3 linked regions of the Homo sapiens genome follow. The protein of the gene in region 2 purifies or fractionates together with the protein of the main gene of each other region. This does not show direct contact. Each region holds a gene or a part of one and is shown on either strand. Other genes may lie near its edges.

The links.
Region 1: the proteins of PLA2G4A (region 2) and MYBL2 purify together in Homo sapiens (affinity purification with western blotting; one study listed by BioGRID). This does not show direct contact.
Region 3: the proteins of PLA2G4A (region 2) and SUGT1 purify together in Homo sapiens (affinity purification with mass spectrometry; one large-scale study listed by BioGRID and IntAct). This does not show direct contact.

The regions. Positions count from the first base shown.
Region 1 is NC_000020.11:43,698,066-43,701,720, reverse strand, and holds part of MYBL2 (myb-related protein B), read right to left. Parts: intron 1,965-3,655; coding exon 1,677-1,964; intron 1-1,676. UniProt on the Homo sapiens protein: Transcription factor involved in the regulation of cell survival, proliferation, and differentiation. Transactivates the expression of the CLU gene.
Region 2 is NC_000001.11:186,831,830-186,835,484, reverse strand, and holds part of PLA2G4A (cytosolic phospholipase A2), read right to left. Parts: intron 1-3,655. UniProt on the Homo sapiens protein: Has primarily calcium-dependent phospholipase and lysophospholipase activities, with a major role in membrane lipid remodeling and biosynthesis of lipid mediators of the inflammatory response.
Region 3 is NC_000013.11:52,697,817-52,701,545, forward strand, and holds the end of SUGT1 (protein SGT1 homolog), read left to right. Parts: 3' UTR 1-3,093; downstream 3,094-3,729. UniProt on the Homo sapiens protein: May play a role in ubiquitination and subsequent proteasomal degradation of target proteins.

The sequences.
Region 1 (3,655 bases), on a different chromosome or scaffold from region 2:
ACGAAATATAGAGCAGTGAATGGGATGTCACTCATCATTGATGCCTCCTTGGGGCAGCTCACAAAAGTTATTTCCAATCCCCACAATTCTGCTAGGGAAGCATTACTTTCCCTTTCATACCAAGGAAGCTGAGCTAAGGGGATTCGGTCTTCCCAAAGTTACTCACTCAGCTTCTAGAACAAGCCCGTGAGTCACTACAGGTTTTCCCTCCTTTACCCAATAAATCACAACACAAACCAAAAGGCTTCTGGACACAGAGGCTTCCACTTTGGTCTTTGGGTTCTGGCTTCTGAGTGGACCCAGACACTAAAGCCGAGTTCTGGTTCCCTGGGGTAGTTCACTCCTAAGGGTGGAGGCCAGCTGGGGGGCAGGACCGACCTCAGGCCCACACCCCAATTCAGGGAGGACCCAGCACCGACAGTGTCTGGTAGACCAGAAGTACATCCTACAAGGACCACTGAAGTGGACGGAGCAGAGGAGGGAAGATGGGATTTCCACACACGCAGTAACTCCCCCAACAGGCGCTGAAGGTCATTGTGGAAAGAGCCTGAGCTCTGAGCCGGACAGCAAGGTTTAACTCCTGTTCCTGGAGGTCACCGGCTGTGTGAACCTGGCCAAGTCTCCTAACCTCTCTGAGCGTGGGGTGCTCTCACTGTTGATGAGTCCACTACCCACCTCACAGGCTGTTAAAGACCAACTAAGAGCCTACACATTAGGTAGCAAGTGATGGGCCTGGCACGCGGCAAGCACTCCAATGTTAGGTACTGTAATTACTCATTAAGCACTGGCTCCGGCAATCAGTGGGTGCTCAATACAAGCGAGCTGTGCCTGCCAAGCGATAGTAGCAGGAGCATAGCATGGCAGTCAAGACCACCAAGTATACTTGCTGTGCAACCTTGGGTACACTACTTGACCTCTCTGAGCCTCAGTTTCACCTAAAAAACAGAAATGACACACCTCACAGGATACCACGCAGACTGTATGTTAAGCTCAGACCCTGGCAGTTAGATGTTCTAGGATGGGAGACACCTGGGTGGAAAGGCGAACACGGACCCCCATACTGAACTCCCCACCCTAGTGACCAGGCCTCTGGTCTTTCACCTCCCAAAACCCGCTCTACACAGCAGGCCTGGCCGATGCAGCCAGGAGCCGGGGTGTCACACCAAGAAGCCCTCCTCAAAGGACACAACCACACAGCCAACACAGTAACCACAACACGGGCTCAATGGCTGCCCCACCCTGAGTAACCAGAACCCACTCACCACTCCAAGACCAGCACCAAGACTTGGCATTTCCTGGGCTCCTCTTCAGGGAGACCCAACCATGTGTGATGCCACAAATACCACGCTGTCCTGTGCTGTCACCTGCCAGTCAACCTTTAGGACTCAGTTCAGTGCCACCTCCTCTGGGCAGCCTTCCCACCCCGCCCTGTGCCATACATAGAGGTCAGATGCCACCACAAACTCCTGCTGCACACACCGGGAGCTCCCCAAGGATAGGGACTGCATGCTGACAACCCTGGTGTCCCCAGCCCTTGGGTCAGGGCTAGGCATTCAGCATCAAGTCAGTAACTGTTAGCAGGGCGATGGAATGAGCAAAAGGATGTGGGCCTGAGAGAGAAGCACTTCCTGCTGGGGGTGTTCTGTGCTCACTGTGAAGTGTTGTGACCAACATACCGACTCGATCAAGTCCAGGGCTTCAGAGAGGCTAGAACCCACAGCAGGGATGAGGAGGTTAGCTGCCTCCACCACCCACTTGTAAGGCAGGCTCGTTTCTGGTGGGGAGCCTTCCTGGTCCTCACGCTTCGGGAATTCCTCCAAGGGCTCTGGTGTTCGCACTGCGTCCAGATCTGTACCGATGGGCTCCTGTTCCTTCGATGTGGTGGCTGCTGCAAGTTCCTCCTCACTGTTTTCCTCCTCCTTTATGGTAGGAGGGACGGAGGGCCAGTTGGTCAGAAGACTTCCCTGTAAGACACAAGAATACACCATTTGCATTTCGCTGAGATATAGACTATATAGTAGTTTCCAGCTAAACCACACAACCTGAATCTAAGAAGGAAACTGTGATGAACCCAAATAGAGAAACATTCTACAGAATAATTAGCCATACCATATACTTCCAAAATGTCAACATCATGACACTAAGAAAGGCTGACTAAAGGGATAGGACAACTAAATGCAATGTCTGGTCTTAGACTGCATCATGGACAGGGAAAAATGGAATATAAACTGTAGATAAAGATCCTGAATTAGGCTTAAATTCCCTGGATTGAATATAACTTTATTGTGGTTATGTAAGCAAATGGCCTTATTCTTAGGAATCTATGCTACATAACTAACTCTCAAATGGCTCAGATGAAAGAAGTAATACACAGAGGTTGGGTGCAGAGGCTCACGCCTGTAATCCCAACACTTTGGGAGGTCGAGGCTGGTGGATCACCTGAGGTCAAGAGTTCGAGATCAGCCTGGCCAACATGGTGAAACCCTGTCTCTACTAAAAACAAAACAAAACAAAATTAGCCAGGTGTGGTGGCAGGCACCTGTAATCCTAGCTACTCGGGAGGCTGAGGCAGGAGAATTGCTTGAACCTGGGAGGCAGAGGTTGCAGTGAGCTGAGATCGCACCATTGCACTACAGCCTAGGTAACAAGAGCAAAACTCTGTCTCAAAAAAATTAAAAAATAAATTTTTAATGCTTAATAAACATTAAAAAATAAAAAGACCAGGTACAGTGGCTTATGCCTGTAACTCTAGCACTTTGGGAGGCTGAGGCAATTGGGTCCCTTGAGTTCCTGAATTCAAGGTTGCAATGGGCTATGATCACACCACTGCACTCCAGCCTGGGCAACACAACAAGACTCTAATAAAAAAAAAAGGGAGGGGGGAGGGGGCTGGGTGTGGCGGCTCACACCTGTAATCCCAGAACTCTGAAAAGCTCAGGCAAGAGGACCCCTTGAGTTCATGAGTTCAAGGTTGCAGTGAGCTATGATCACGCCACTGCACTACAGTCTGGGGTACAGAGCAAGACCCTGCTCATTTAAAAAAAAAAAAAAAAAAAAAATCACGCCTGTAATCCCAGCACATTGGGAGGCCGAGACGGGCGGATCACAAGGTCAGGAGGATCGAGACCATCCTGGCTAACACGGTGAAACCCCATCTCTACTAAAAATACAAAAAATTAGCCAGGTGTGGTGGCAGGCGCCTGTAGTTCCAGCTACTTGAGAGGCTGAGGCAGGAGAATGGTGTGAACCCGGAAGATGGAGCTTGCAGTGAGCCGAGACTGCGCCACTGCACTCCAGCCTGGGCTACAGAACGAGACTCTGTCTCAAAAAAAAAAAAAAAAAAAAAAAAAAAAAAAAAAAAAAAAAAAATATGCGGGGCGTGGTGGCTCACACCTGTAATCCCAACACTTTGGGAGGCCAAGGCAGACAGATCCCTTGAGCCCAGGAGTTCGAGACCAGCCTGGGCAAACCCCATCTCTATAAAACAAACGAACAAACAAAAAGTGAATTTTATTGTATGTAAATTATACCTTTATAAAATAAAGAAAAAAAGCTACCAAACTGGGAAAAAATAGTTACTACATGATAAAGGAGTAGCATCCTTAATATACAAATAAAATGTACAAACCAGTAACAAGATAAAAAAAAAAAAAAA
Region 2 (3,655 bases):
CATCTTTAGACACTTTTCCCTGATTGCTTTTCAATAAATTCTTACATAATTGCTCCAAATTACTTTTTTCAATACTTTCATAATATTGCATCAAATATATGTTTTAAAAAGTCCACAAAATGAATTGCCTTTTTGTTTCAAAACTTAAAACACCATTTATCTGCCTCGAGACTATCCTAGGCAGACACTGTCTCTTCTTATAGATCCAAGAATTCTGCAAAAATACTTTTTTCCATAAGGGGTGAACATCCCAGTTTACTGCCTGTGTACTGCATTTAACTTGCTTATCCTGTCAAAACTGTGGGCATAAAAGTATGGGGCAAATAAGAAGTGTGTCAATTTACTGACTGAAATTCAGAAGCCATGTGCTGACCTAATGTTTCTAGTGGCACAGTTGTATCCAGCAGTAAAACCTGACCTAGTATGCATTATTTATTACCACATCATAGTATGTATACTAAGTCAAGCGTATAACTAATGTTGGGTTTTACCCCTGAGAAGGAGTATCTGCTTTATCATAAGCTACTGAATTATTTGGAAAGGTAAAATAATAATTATTTTGTCCAAATGATAAATCCAAGGTCAGAGTAACCATTTTGATACAAATGCTTTATGCCAACTGCCAGGTTTAATAAGAGCCAGAAAGAGCCATAGGTTCTGTAGGTTATACTTAGAAAATTCTAAGAAAATTCTCTACGACCAACCTGAAAGCAAAACATTTGGCAAAATCAGCACTTTTTACATAACTCATGAAATGTGTTTATTTTGTATTTTTAGATAAAATGTAATATATTTTATTTTCTTAAAGTAGTATACATACTACTGTACAAAGTACTATGTAGTTCCAAAATTGCACAACCTCCCCTATTACGTCAATCAGTAATCAAGTTATAAGGGCAGAACGATTGAGTTATTATGGAAACACGCACCAGGAGAGTGGACTTCCTGGGCCTTCTCCAGTAATTTTTCTGATGTTAACTCCAATAGAAAGAGTGTGACAACCTCAAAGAATACACATTAAAACTAAAAATATAAACCAATATATTTAAACATTTAAATACATCAAAATGGAATCATAAGGCAGACATTAAAAAAAAGAAAAAAACGTTTGACTTTTCAATAGCTCTTTTTCACATCTGTAAAATGTGGATAGTCATACCTGTACTGCTAACTTACACAGTTTTGTGGAAATAAACAAAGTTCATAACCAATCCCTTTATCAACCACAAAGCCTGTGAAAATAAAAAAATACTGGGCCTCTGATTTTTTTTTCAAACTAGATAGTGAGAAAACAGCTTGTAAATTAAATAACAAAACAAAAACCTAAGCAAGTATAAGCTGAGTATCATAAATACATGAGTTTTCTGTACTGTAGAAGAATACATATTAATGACATTTGTTTACTAATTCAAAGCACACTGTTACCTAAAATACCGATTTTTTTCCTGAAGACTCCAGAAGTCAAGCAAATGAAGAGGAAGATTGGGGAAAAGGAAGCAGTTGATTCACAACTGCATGTGCCAAAAAAGGAGTGGGAAGAAAAATGAGAGCCAATTTGGTCTATTATCTTTAATGGAGAGTGATGGCTAAACTCTGACACTGATAACTTTCAGCGTCAGGTGTCTGCTGAGTTTCTCTAAGCTCATTTGAATTCATTTAATAAGTGATTAGACTGGTAGGGTAGCTTTACAAATCTGCTTATGGTGAGCATTGAGTTGTTTATGCTTATTTCATTTTTTGTATAAGGAAAGGTAAACTGTATTTTCAAGGTGTGTTGTAAGATTTGCACTAAGAATCACAAAAAGAATCAAAAAACTTAGAATCACATAGCAAAAGTAGCAAATACATGTAATGCATCCTTTATTAACAGGCAGGTAATGGTATCAGAGGACCAGAATAACCTCTGCTCTATTTACTGTCTTCTTTGGAAAGAACTCCAGAACCAACCTTTTGGTTCCCCCAACTATTTATTGCCCTAATAGTCAAGGGGTAGAAGACAAAGAGTTGGCCAGAACTGAAATTCATTTTCTCTAAATTGGTTGTTCACAACCAATAATATTATTTTCCTCACAAAACTTTTCTTTTTAATAAGAAACAAAATCTTGCTCTATCACCCAGGCATGAGTGCGGTGTGTGGTCAAAGCTCACTGCAGCCTCAAACTCCTGTGTTCAAATGATCCCCCTGCCTCAGCCTCCCAAATTGCTGGATTACAGGTGCATGCCACCATATCCAGCTGATTTTTTCAAAATTTTTAATAAGATTTTAATTAATCTCACTATGTTGACCAGGCTGGTCTCAAACTCTTGGGCTCAAGCCTGCCAAAGTGTTGGGATTACAGGTGTAAGCCACTGCACCCAGCCTTACAAAACTTGAACAGTCATCACGCCACCCTTAGTCCTAACAATATCTTCTTTACATGATTCAGGCCAGGATGTCTCTGGTGCTGGGTTTTGGCCATCATCTCTGAACCCTCCAGGTTTCCCATCATTTGTAAACTATTAGTCTATGAGAATAAAAAATAATTTGCTCTCATTTTTCTATGTATTCTCACCCATTTTTAAGGGAAAGGTTTCAGGAAACACTAAAAATAACCCTCCAAAAATGAGAAAAACATTGTTTATAGAATTTCTACTTCCAGTTCAAAATTTCATCTATATTGTTAAGACTCTTAATATTCTTCAAAATTACTGAGGACCCCAAAAGTGCTATGATTATGTAAGTTATATCCGTTAATATCTATCATATTTGAAATTGAAAGAGAAAAATTTTTTAAATCACATTGAAAGAGACAATTCACAAACATAGACATATAAGTGGCCACTATGAAAATTGCTCAACTTTGTTCAACAAAGAAATGTAAATTTAAACAAGATACTATTTTCGTATATCAATTATCCAAGTTGTTGGATTTGTTGTCATTTGCTCTGTTTGATGATGGCACCCAGTATTGACATAGAAAACTCTACTCTTTTATATTGCTCATAAATGAATACCATATTCCTCAAGAGCAAAATGTCAAAAATAATCACTAGCATTCCATGAGATTTCGCTAAATATTTTAAAGAATCCTCAAAATACCCAACTATTATTATTTCTATTTTACAATTGAGAAGACAACATTTTAAGGAGATAAAGTAATTGGATTATCATCTCACAACTTGTAAGTAATAAAATTTTTTTTAGAACCTAGAAAATAAACTTTAAGAATCTACCATAAGGAAATAAACAAAAATGTATACTAACATATATAAAAAAGGTCCTAGATGAAATATTATTTATAATAGTGGAAAACTATTATAAATCTAAATATCCAACAATTATTTATAATAGTGGAAAACTAATCTATCTAAATATCCAACAAGATATAATTGGCCAGTACAGCCTATATACAGATGAAAAATTTCATATAGTAAGAACCATACTCTTTTGCTCATGGATAGATTGCCATTACTTGCATTACACACAGTAGGGACTTAATAATATTTGTTAAATATGTGAATACAAAGTAATGCATGATTATTAAAAAAAACATGTTTTAACAATGCATCTCATGAATGAGGGAGAAGCATGTTACAAAACAGCATGAACAGTGTGATCACAATTTTGTAAAACTACATGTATGTATAGAAACATATCTAGACATATAAACATGTA
Region 3 (3,729 bases), on a different chromosome or scaffold from region 2:
CAAATACGCATCAGACACTGAGCTAGGTGCTAGGTACTAGGTAAACAAAATTCCCTGCCTTCATGGAGCTTAGCTTGTGGTGGTGGAAAGAAGCCCTCAGCCTGAATACTCAACTTATGTCTGCCGTTTATTCCTTAACACATTAAACTATAGGTAATAGCATATGTTAGTCTAATCTTTGTTTAGCAAAGCTATTTCTTGTTCTGGAATATAAGTACAGTTACAGCAGAATAAGTACCAAGGCAAGATTGGAGAATGACCGGTTGTGAACAGGGACTTAGGAATATGTGTAGCATAGGATTTTATTTTAGAGTTGTTAAAATCAGATCAACAGAGCATGTTTTTATGGGCCATCTGACAAGACTAGAGGTAGCTTTGGAACCTCTTATTCCCTGGAATGCAAACATGTATTTGCATTTCATCCACTGTCAGTATGAGGAGACAAAAACGAAGTCAGGATTTTGGAGCTGGAATGGATCTTAAATACTATGTAGTCCAAACGTTTGGTTTTACAGATGCACTTTTTCCAGAGTGCTGTCATCTCATATACTTTTTTCTTCATACAGGTTTTTAATGTAACTCACTCAGATCGTTGGTGATAGACTCTCTCTTAAAACTTATTTATCCTAATCTTTTTTTTTTTTTTTTTTTTAAGAGACAGGGTTTTGCTCTGCTGTCCAGGCACACAATAGCTCACTGTAACCTCCAACTCCTGGAGTCAAGTGATCCTCCTGCCTCAGCCTCTCAGGTAGCTGGGACTGCACTACTAGTGCACTAAGCTAATTTTTAAATTTTTTTTGTAGAGACAGGGTCTTGCTGTGTTGCCCGGGCTGCTCTCTTAACTCCTGGCCTCAAGTAATCCTCTTGCCTTGGCTTCCCAAAGTGCTGGGATTACAGGCGTGAGCCACCATGCTTAGCTGATTTGCCCTAATCCTCTGCTGACATTCTGATATCGGACAACTAAAATTATAACATTGGGCAGCTATTTTGTATGATATATAGGGTAGTGGTTCTTAAGCTTATTGGTGAGTAACCTTCACTTGGGAAGCTTATTTTTAAAAATGTAGACCTTCATTACTTTCCTCCTGAGATTTTGAATCAGTACCTTTGAGAGAGGGTCCAGTAAATCTTTGTTTTGAATGAACTGATGGTTTTGAAGCAGGTGACCTGGAGGACTGCATGTAGAACACAGTGATGTCAAGGAGTAAAGGAGAGAACAGAAGTGAGATTAGCACTAATCACCTCTAATGCCTTATTTCCAGTAAAGTTTAGAGAAGAGGAAAAGCTACTTGGCTTGCTCCTTTGAAGGTTTTGTTTCCCTCTTAACACAGAAATTAAAAGGTAGAGGAGAGATGCTGAATGATGCTTTTTTTCTTCTTAATCTTGGGGGGTCATTATGATTAAGTTATTGAATCCATATCACCGTATGACAGCACATGATGAAAGAAAATCAAATGTTTGTTTCAATCAAAGTGAAACAAAATGAGAATAACTATTTGGGCAAAACACTTTTATCACTGCTAAGATATTACTAGAACTGAGCAGAGAAATACTCAGAGAGAGCCATGGCATAGTACTAATTAATAATGGGGTACCATTTAGCAACTGGAATATTCTCCGATGATGCCTGTTTAATTACCCATAGGTGCTAAGTGAATGTTAAAAATTACGGTGCTGGTTGAGTAGGCCGAGTAGAATTTGTGTTAGGGCACATCCCATGGAGATCTTTTTTACTGCTTAATTTTTTGGAGTTACCTCAGTAACTTAACAGGCAGGAATATGGTTTTAATGGAAAGGAAACCATTTGCCTTTAACAGCATTAGTCCCGCTAAGAGAAAGTTTTTGCTTGTCTAGTTTATTACAGGTCTTTGACTTTGTCAGTATATGGCAAATTTAGTATAAAAGATGATTAATTATCAAGGCTGATGAAATATAGGCAGCTGAAAAGAAAATTCTTAGCAATTCATACCTTAGAAGGAACCCTGAAGGACAGGACGCCATAGAAATCCTGTTTTTTTAAAAAAGTAATTTCAAGTAAGTTTGCAAATGCAATGCTAGTAAAAAGTATATAGAGGTATGTCTTTCACACTATCTTGTTACTATTAGAATTTTTGTAGCCATGTGCAGAGGAGAGAAAAGGTGTTGGATTTTCTGCAGTTCTGATTCAGTTCTAAGAATTTGGTGTGAAAAGAATGTTTGCAAAGGAGCAGGCACAAAGGTGAGAACAGGAATACGAAACACAACATCTGTAAATGACTAAATTCAGAGGGAATTTAGTGGGGCATATCTCTTAAATGGTTTTGAATAATTTGGTGTTTTAACCAATGACTTAATTTAACTTAGTGGGTATACTGTTCCCAGTCCCATTACTGATTTTTATTCCTCTGTGATAACATACACCCAAATAAAGACTGCTATGTATTTGACTTTAAAACTATAAAGATGTAAAAAAGGTTCACTAAGCCAAACACCTTAGAAAATAGCCTCAGCTATTTGCTATGTTTATATTATACCTGCATAAAAGTATTTATGTATAGATGTACTTACCTTACACAGTAAGTACCTAAAATTTGTAAATTGAATACTTTTGAATGTAAGCAGTTGAAGTAAAACCTGTAGTGAGTTCTTCAGTCAGTCAACACTAAACCTGTTTTGTAAATTTGATGCTAGTATTATACTGGACTTTCTCAAAATGAAGTACACCTATATATGCATATAGTATATGAGCATGTGTATTTGTACAAAAGCCCTTCAAAAGGAGTTCAGCTTTTATAAACACCAAAACACTCTCTGCCTGTAAAATGTTTTTGCTGAAATTTGTATCATTAACTCTCAAATTTACATCTTCATGTTTGAGATACGCTTTTAGGACTGTCTATGCATGTAGACTTTGGTCAACTCTCTCCTCCTCCCTCAATAAATCAGTTAACTTAAAAAATATATTGTGACCATTTTTATAAAATACATGTTCATAAAACAGATCAACATATTTAGCTTATACAGAAATAAAATTAAGTCAATCCACTCACAAAGAATTTCTATTTTGTAAAAATGTAGCTTGTATTTCAGTATAATAAAATCTGATGTAAGAAACTGTTGAGTGGGTTAAGTGGTTATTCTTAGTATTATATCTACTTTTTTAGTGTCACAGTTATTTGAGGTGCTGGTGGAAGGGGAGGTGTAAAAACACACAAGTTTTTGCAGCCAGAAAATGAAAACATTTTCCATGTGCTGACTAAATGGCAGCTGTCACATATTTCCTTCCATTCCGAGTCAAACTAGGACCTTGAAATCTAACTTGAGATGTTCCATCAGGATTGGTTTGTACCACTACTGAGAATTAAATGAGTATCTAATGAAGTACCAATAATACACATAAGTCTATACACACATACTAACATTTCAGTCAAGATTCAGCACAGCAAACTGGGCTGTATTTGCAACTTTTAGACTGGCCTGGTTAAAAGTAATTTGAGAAATTAGTAGTACCAAGTTGTGAAGAAATTTGTAATTCTTCCCTGTTGCCCTCTCTTCCTTTATTGAATGCTCATCTGTCCACTTCTCTTTCAAAGTAGACCCTTATTTTCATCCTTGAATACAATTTAAGTCTCCTTTGTCATTCCTATCCTTAATCCAACCTTGAATTTTTCCTCTGTTATTAAATCATCCTGATTTTTTCTGTTAAATTGATGTCCTTGGGTATTTAGTGACGTTTCATAACACAACATA